Linked DNA regions of Homo sapiens: region 2 is linked to region 1. Evidence: fine-mapped expression QTL. A gene starts in region 1. The other region holds a variant in brackets. All regions are shown on one strand. Distances are between the middles of the regions. Region 1 holds the start of POLR2G (RNA polymerase II subunit G). Region 2 overlaps SLC22A24 (solute carrier family 22 member 24).

Evidence for each region. PIP is the estimated chance that this variant, and not a neighbour inherited with it, causes the effect. A credible set is the group of variants that fine-mapping cannot tell apart.
Region 2: its variant is the best candidate, but not a certain one, in a credible set for the expression of POLR2G in prefrontal cortex (GTEx, PIP 0.78).

Annotation. Positions count from the first base shown.
Region 1 is chr11:62,758,696-62,763,088 of GRCh38, reverse strand. It overlaps POLR2G (RNA polymerase II subunit G), which reads right to left and starts at 1,509. Exons shown (of 8, transcript NM_002696.3): 1 at 1,429-1,509; 2 at 1,185-1,294; 3 at 63-222. The coding sequence starts at 1,440. RefSeq lists an enhancer at 1,301-1,500.
Region 2 is chr11:63,114,838-63,119,230 of GRCh38, reverse strand. It overlaps SLC22A24 (solute carrier family 22 member 24), which reads left to right. Exons shown (of 10, transcript NM_001136506.2): 3 at 1-50; 4 at 151-319. It also overlaps the pseudogene RPL29P22. Among named protein-coding and RNA genes, the nearest start is that of SLC22A24, 27 kb to the left of the region's middle. The variant G/A (reference allele first, on the strand shown) is at 2,366.

The DNA of each region.
Region 1 (4,393 bases):
CCAGAACCCAACCCAGATCTTCCGAGAGACTACCCCACTGCCTCCCCTATGTATGGTCTCACCTTGTTGACCTGAGTGACAACAGCATCCACGACCTCCCCTTTAAATGGCCGGAAAACAATGGCCTTGTACTTAACTGGATAAAGGACAAAGCCTCGGCCTGGCTGGATCACACCAGCACCAATATTGTCAATGGTGGTGACAGCAATTACAAAGCCATACCTGCAAGGAGGATGAGAAACAGGAAGACACTGTGTGTCCAAGAGCCTCTAAAGACATCTGCAATAAAAGTCGCTGAGCTCTTGGGGGTAGGGTCGGGGAGAGCAAAAGGACAAGTAGATAGCACCTCTGCTCCCAGAGAGCTTAATGACCAAAAGAAGACAGAACAGAGATCAGTATGTGTAAGACCAAATGCTGTTCTGGTAATTTCACAATAAATGTCCAAGAAGGCTGGAGTCCTTGAGGCAACAGATCTCAATCTTCGGGATGCCTGAGAATCATCTTCTTAAAATGCAGATTCTCAGGTCTGCCCCAGACAGTCTTGATTCTGTAGGGAATAAGGAGGCTCAGGAATCTGCATGTTCCTGCAGGTTTTTCTGATGCTGGAGGCCCAAGTACTCCACTGCCCTGAGCTGGGTCCCAGCTCATTAATATCAGAGAGGCCCCTCTGTGCAAAGCCCAGAGATGGTCAAATCCCAGGCTACTTCCTTCCTCCCCCAAACTCTCGATCTGCTTTTTCTGGTCATTCATTCAGAAGATATATAGAGGCCCATGGTGTGTGGTCCCTGGGCACAGGGGATAAGAGAAAACCAGCAGAATGACAGAGGGAGAGCAGACACAGGAACAATGATTACACTGTGAGCTCCACAGGGGCTGTCCTCATTCTATCTTGTTCCCATTCTACCTTGTTCTGAGCCCAACACGGGTCCTGGCACACACCAAGGGTTTTTAAAATGTTTGAGGAGTCAATGAATGACCCATCTCAGCTGAGAGAAGGAAGTCTTATTGTCCAGCATTGCAGAGGGCGCCCTGGGAACCCAAAGCAGGAAGCAACTGGCTGCCTGAGAGAGGAGAGGGGTCCCCAGAGTGGGTGGCAGGACGAGTAGGAGTTGGGGAGGGGTTGCAGGTATAGCGCCCCGTGTGCGCATCGAACGATCTGGCGGTGCGGTGAGCTCGACACTCACTTCCCTGTGCAGGTCCCCTCCACCTCGGTGAAGAGCTTCTGCTTCACCGTGTTGAGCAAGTTGGGGCCGAAGTAGCGCGGGTGCAGCAGGATTTCGTGCTCTAGGGAGATCTGCGGAGAAAAGTGGGATGGCGACCAGGCCAGGCGCTGGCAGGTTATTGGACGACAAGGGGAGTCTCGCGCCGGCGCCTGGCCTTGCTCTTCCTTTCCACCCAGCCCTTGCCGCCACCCTGAGCCCTGCTCACATGGTAGAACATCTTCCCAGACCAGGTAGGCAGGCAGAGTCCACACCTCCGACAGTCCCTGGGAATCCACCGGAAACACTTAGACGCCGCAACCCCAGTTCCGCGCTTGCTGCGACTAGGAGGGCGGAACACCACCTCCTCCGCGAGGGCGGAACTCCACCAGCTCCGCGGGTCTGATTGGGCCTCGCCGTCGTGGGCGAGAACCACTAAGCCCCGCCCCTCACCCCCGCCCCCCAGCCATCAAACGACAACTTTTTTTTTTGAGGCGGAGTCTCCCTCTGTTGCCCAGGCTGGAGTGCAGTGGCGCGATCTCGGCTCACTGCAACCTCCGCCTCCCGGGTTCAAGCGATTCTCCTGCCTCATCCTCCCGAGTAGCTGGGATTAAAGGCATGTGCCACCACACCTGACTAATTTTGTATTTTTAGTAGAGATGGGGTTTCTCCATGTTGGTCAGGCTGGTCTCAAACTCCCAACCTCAGGTGATCCACCCACCTCGGCCTCCCAAAGTGTTGGGATTACAGGAGTGAGCCACCGCGCCCGGTCGGCAACTATCTGAATTGCTTGAACCTGGGAGGCGGCCCGAGATCTTGCCACTGAACTCCAGCCTGGGCAACAAGAGCGAAACTCCATCTCAACAGATAGATAGATAGATAGATAGATAGATAGATAGATAGATAGATAGATAGATAATAGATAGATAGATAGATAGATAGATAGATTGATAAATGCTACCACTTACTGCTTTCTTCCTAGATGCCTGGGCAACAAGAGCGAAACTCCATCTCAATAAATAAAATAAATAAATAAATAAATGCTATCACTTACTACTTTCTTCCTAGATGCCAGACACTGTGCTAAGCGCTTGATATAATTCTCTCCCTTAATTCTCATAATAATCTACAGAAATTGGTGTAGAAATAAAAAAAAAATGTTTACGAGCCTTAGCCAAAAGGCCAAGAAGCTACAGAAAATAATGAAATTTAGGCCGGGCGCTGTGGTTTACGCCTGTAATACCAGCACTTTGAGAGGCCGAGGCGGGCAGATCATGAGGTCAGGAGATTGAGACCATCCTGGCTAACATGGCGAAACCCCGTCTCTACTAAAAATACAAAAAATTGGCCGGGCGTGGTGGCAGGCGTCTGTAGTCCCAGCTACTCAGGAGGCTGAGGCAGGAGAATCGCTTGAACCCGGGAGGCGGAGGGTGCAGTGAGTTGAGATCGCGCCACTGCACTCCAGCCTGGCGACAAAGCAAGACGGAGTCTCAAAAAAAAAAAAAAATTTAAGAGCTATTGGAAGCCCAAAAAACACTTTAAGCCTCGAGAGAGATATGACTGCGAGTCACATATAGTTTACAACTTCTGTTCTCAGATTATAGATTAACTCTTTTTTTTTTTTTTTTTTTTTTTGAGACGGAGTCTTGCTGTGTCGCCCAGGCTGAAGTGTAGGAAATCCATGACTATTTCATCCTCTGTTAAAAAATGTTACATGCGCCGGGCACTGGTGGCTCATGCCTGTAATCCCGGCTACTCGGCTACTGGGGAGGCTGGGGCAGGACAATTGCTTGAACCCGGGAAGCTGAGATTGCAAAGAGCCGAGATCGCTCCACTGCACTTCAGCCTGGGATGCAGAGCAAGACTCCCTCTCTCTTTTTTTTTTTTTAATAGAGACGGGGTTTCTCCATGTTGGTCAGGCTGGTCTCGAACTCCCGACCTCAGGTGATCCGCCCACCTCGGCCTCCCAAAGTGCTGGGATTACAGGCGTGAGCCACCGCGCCCGGCTGACTCCCTCTCAAAAAAAAAAAAAAAAAAAAAAAAAAAAAAAAAAAAAGTTACATGCAAATCACGAGATCAGAAGTTCAAGACCAGCCTGGCCAAAATAGTGAAAACCCATCTCTACTAAAAATACAAAAAATTAGCCGTGTGTGGTGGCAGGTGCCTGTAATCCCAGCTACTCCAGAGGCTGAGGCAGAAGAATGTCTTGAACCCGGGAGGCGGAGGTTGCAGTTAGGCAAGATCTTGACACTGCACTCCAGCCCAGGCAACAGTGCGAAACTCCAAATAAAAAAAAATTGGAAAAAAAAAGTTACATGTATACTTCCCAAAAAGAAACATTGTCTATAGCCAACCAAATTGCTATAACTATGTACCAATCTTCTGTGAAAAATGTAATCCTGCTAAAAAGTCATGTGTGCTTGCCTATATAAATGAAATCTTAACTTTCTTACTTCACAACACTGACTCCATTCTTCTGGAGTTGGTGGTTCCAGGTGTTCCATTCTCATACTTCGCACTTGAAAAAACTCTAAATTAGGTTCTGACCCGTCGGATTATTTTAGGTTGACACTGATACTATTATTATTCCTACCTTATACATAAGCCAGAAAAAGATTAAGGGGAGGTATTTGGGTATGAATAGCTGACCTGCTCCAAAGCTTGTGTTCCTTTTTTTTTTCTTTTTTCTTTCTTTCTTTTTTTTTTTGAGTTGGAGTCTCACTCTGTCGCCTAGGCTGGAACTTAGTGGTGCAATCTCGGCTCGCTGCAACCTCCGCCTCCCAGATTCAAGTGATTCTCCTGCCTCAGCCTCCCAAGTAGCTGGGATTACAGGCGCCCACCACCACGCCCAGCTAATTTTTTTTTTTTTTGTATTTTTAGTAGAGACCAGGTTTCACCATGTTGGCCAGGCTGGTCTCGAACTTCTGACCTTAGGTAATCCATCTGCCTCAGCCTCCCAAAATGCTGGGATTACAGGCCTGAGCCACTGCGCCCGGCCCCACCTTTTTTTTTTCTTGAGAAAGGGTCTCATTCTGTCACCCAGGCTGCCAGGCTGGAGTGCTCATTGCATTCCCCAGCTACAGGTATGGGTCACCATGCGCGGGTAATTTTTTATTTTTTGCAGAGATGTGGGTCTTACTCTGTTGACCAGGCTAGTCTTGAACTTCTGGCCTCAAGTGATCCTCTTGCTTTTG
Region 2 (4,393 bases), 360 kb before region 1:
CTTGGCAGGGTTCTCCACCATGACTATTTTGGGAAACACTTTTATTCTCAGTAAGTCAATAATTTGAGCATTTTATCATCTCCATGTCTTGAATTGACCTTGAAATTACCATTTGTCTAAAATTATTACTATGTATATGTTTTCTTCCAGGCTTAGAGTGGACATTGCCCCGGTCACGATCTATGACAATAATGGTGCTATTATGTTCCTACAGTGTTGGGCAGATGCTCCTAGGAGGGCTGGCTTTTGCCATTCAGGACTGGCACATATTGCAACTGACTGTGTCTACACCCATAATTGTCCTCTTCTTGTCCTCTTGGTATGAACAATCTCCACATTCTTTGCCTGTAAGCGAGGCTATGGTAGACATAGAAAGGAAAATTCTGACACCTGGGATCTGTTCGGTCTCTGGCCTAGTCCTGAGCCATGATGTCCATAGTACCTATTGTGTCACCTGAGAAGCAAACAATGGAATAGGATGACACTATATGTGGGGAGGCTGGCACTTTGCATTCATTATTTTAGACATGGAATTATCATGAAATTATTTTTCTTAATAGAAAAAATACCCACTTATTTTTGAAGCAAATGTATTATTTATCTAACTTTTGGAATATTATGTGATGGAGATAATTTGGGGGCTTTTGTCATTGTAACTGAGATTGAATATAAGGAAAACACAATAAATTTATCTACATAACTATTTAAAATTAGAAGAGCATGCTGTCTCTAGCACCAAGAGTTAGGATGGGGGCGACTTCAGGGAACTTGACAGAGTAGGATCTCCAAAAATTGGTTCCTCCATAAAAGCAACACAAAACTAGCAAAAAGTTGTCAAAATCATCTCTTTCAGAACTCTGAAAATTAACCAAAGACTTGCAGCAATTTAGGGAATCTTTTGTTGAAGAAAAACTGAGTCCCAGTAAGAAAGTGAATGTTGGGATGTTTTTAACATATCTTAGTTTCAGTTCCTACTCTCCAGCTATGCTGCAGCCTTGAAAAAAAAATAACAGCTAACATTCTTGGTACTAGAGGGAGGAGGACAGAGCTTGAGTTATTTCAAAACCTCATTCACAAAAAGCTGTCATTATTATACCTTTCTGCTGGCTCCCCTAAGACCCTATTTGGAAGGCTGTCTCTATTTGACCTGACTCAAAGTTGCCTAGTGTGAGAAGGCTCCCCTCATAAGGCATTTGTCAAACATATTTACTGACAAATGTTTTGAGGTCACAGCTGTCTGAAGTGATGGATAACAATTTGGGAAAATAATATAATTAACAAAGAGTTGAAAATTAGAAGCTGAGGAACAAAATACAGTTGACCCTTGAACAGTGCAGAGTGTTGGGGGCGCCAACACCCCATGCACTCAAAAATCTGCATATAAATTTTGACTCTAAAAACTGAACTACTTATAGCCTACTCTTGGCTGGCAGCCTTAACAATAACATAAACAGTTATTAACACATATTCTGTGTGTTATATGCATTATATACTATATTCTTATGGTAAAGTAAGCTAGAGAAAAGAAAATGTTATTAAGAAAAGCGTAAGGAAGAGAAAATGTATTTACTATTCATTAAGTGGAAATGGATTATCATACAGGTCTTAATCCTTAACATCTTCATGTTAAGTAGGCTGAGGAGAGGAAAGAAGAGGAGGAGTTGGTCTTGCCATCTCAGGGGTGGCAAAGATAGAAGAGGTAGATGAGGTGAAAGGGGAAGTCCCTAAGCTCTCACCTCTGGATGATCTTGGGGCTCTGCATATGCAGTTGGTGGAGGCTAAGGCAGAGATGTAAACTGCCTGACTGAGTGTCACATACTCAGAGCCTCTCAATAAAGACTGGGAGAAGTATTGGTTGCAGACAACTAACTTAATAGCTGAGCACTAAGCTAACCAAGTAGAGATTCAGTGGCCACACATGACGAATACTGATTTTACAGAATTCGTTAACAAAAAGCCACTAACCAAACAAACAATCACTACAACAGGGAGCAACAACAACAAACATTGAGAAAGAGGGAAGAATATGATTTCCAGAATTGTTACATTATATGTTTAAAAGGCCTAGTTTTCAACAAAGGAGCCATGGAAGAAAACATGAAAGCATGACTTCTACACAGGAAGAAAAGGCAATCAGTACAAACTATACCTGACAAGCCAGATGTTGGCTTATGAGACATAGGATTTGAATCAACTAAGTTAAATATGCTCAAGAATTAAAGAAAACCATGTCTAAATAAGTAACAAAAAAATACAAAAAAAAGATGTCTCCAAATAGAAAACATCATTGAAGATGGAAATGTTTAAAAGGAGCCAAATAGAAATTCTAGAGTTGAAATGTTCAGAAGTGAAAATTTATTGGATG[G/A]TCAAAACAGAAGAGTTGGGCAGGCAGAAAAAAAGCAGTAAATTTGAAGACAGTGTTGAGATTATCCAGTTTAGTGAATAAAATAAGTAAGGAGGAGCAGAGTTTTGAGGACATGTGAGACTCTATCAAGGGTATCAACATATGCATTTTGTAGTCCCAGAAGGCGAGGGCTGAGAAAAAGGAACAAAGTATATTTTTAAAAATAATGGCTAATAAAACAAATATGTTGGAAACATTAATCTACACACCCAAGAAATTCAAAAACTGTAATTCAGATAAACTGAAAAGATCCATACCTAGACACAGTATAATCAAGCTACCAAAATCCAAAGAAAGATTTTTAAAACCATCAAAAGAAAAGCTAACTCATCATGGAAAAGAGATCCTCAATAAGATTAATAGTTGATTTATCAACAGAAAACAGAGTCTGCAAGGCAGTGGGATTAATTATTCAAAGTGTTGAAAAAAAAATCTGCCAGAGCCTTCTGGTTCTAGGTGCTTTGGGAGCTGCGGCTTAAGGTGCAGACATAACCAAGTCCAAGAACCATACCAAACACAACCAGTCCGAAAAATGGCACAGAAATGGTATCAAGAAACCCTGATCACAAAGATATGAATCTCTTAAGGGTGTGGACCCCAAGTTCCTGAAGAATATGCGCTTTGCCAAGAAGCACATCAAGAAGGGCCTAAAGAAGATGCAGGTCAACAATGCCAAGGCCATGAGTGCACATGCCAAGGCTATCAAGGCCCTCATAAAGCCCAAGGAAGTTAAGCTCAAGATCCCAAAGAGTGTCAGCAACAAGCTCGATTGACTTGCCTACATTGCCCACCTCAAGCTTGGGAAGTAGGCTCTTGCCCATGTTGTCAAGGGGCTCGGGCAGTGCCAGCCAAAGGCCAAGGGTCAAACCAAGGCCCAGGCTGCAGCTCCAGCTTCAGTTCCAGCTCAGGCTCCCAAAGGTGCCCAAGCCCCTACAAAGACTTCAGAGTGGATATCTCTGTCTACCAAGGTGAGGACAGAAGGAATGGTGCAACCTCCCCAATAGGCTGCCATCTGCATGGGGCTGGGGTCCTCTGGTGCTATTTGTACAAGTAAACCTGAAAAAAAAAATCTGTCAGCAGAGAATTCTACATCTGCCCATATAAAAAAAACAAAACCGGGTCTTCCATTCCAAGATGGTCGAATAGGAACAGCTCTGGTCTGCAGATCCCAGTGTGATCGATGCAGAAGATGGGTGATTTCTGCATTTCCAACTGAGGTACCTTGTTCATATCACTGGGACTGCTTGGACAGTGGGTGCAGCTCATGGAGGGTGAGCTGAAGCAGGGCGCAGTGTTGCCTCACCTGGGAAGTGCAAGGGGTTGGGGGATTTCCCTTTCCTAGCCAAAGGAAGCCATGACAGACTGTACCTGGAAAAATGGGACACTCCTGCCTAAATACTGTGCTTTTCCCAAGGTCTTAGCAACCAGCAGACCAGGAGATACTCTCCCATGCCTGGCTCACTGGGTCCCATGCCCACGGAGCCTTGCTCACTGCTAGCACAGCAGTCTGAGATCGACCTGCAAGGCAGTAGCCTCATGGGGGGAGGGGTGTCTGCCATTGCTGAGGCTTGAGTAGGTAAATAAAGTGGCCAGGAAGCTCGAACTGGGTGGAGCCCACCACAGCTCAGCCAGGCCTACTGCCTTTCTAGATTCCACCTCTGTGGGCAGGGCATAGATGAACAAAAGGCAGCAGAAACTTCAGCAGACTTAAACGTCTCTGTCTGACAGCTTTGAAGAGACCAGTGGTTCTCCCAGCACAGTGTATGAGCTCTGAGAATGGACAGGCTGCCTCCTCAAGTGGGTCCCTGAACCCTATGTAGCCTAACTGGGAGACACCTCCCAGTAGGGGCTGACAGACACCTCATACAGGCAGGTGCCCTTCTGAGACGAAGCTTCCAGAGGAAGGATTAGGCAGCAATATTTGCTGTTCTGCAAAACCTCCACTGGTGATACCCAGGCAAACAGGGTCTGGAGTGGACCTCCAGCAAA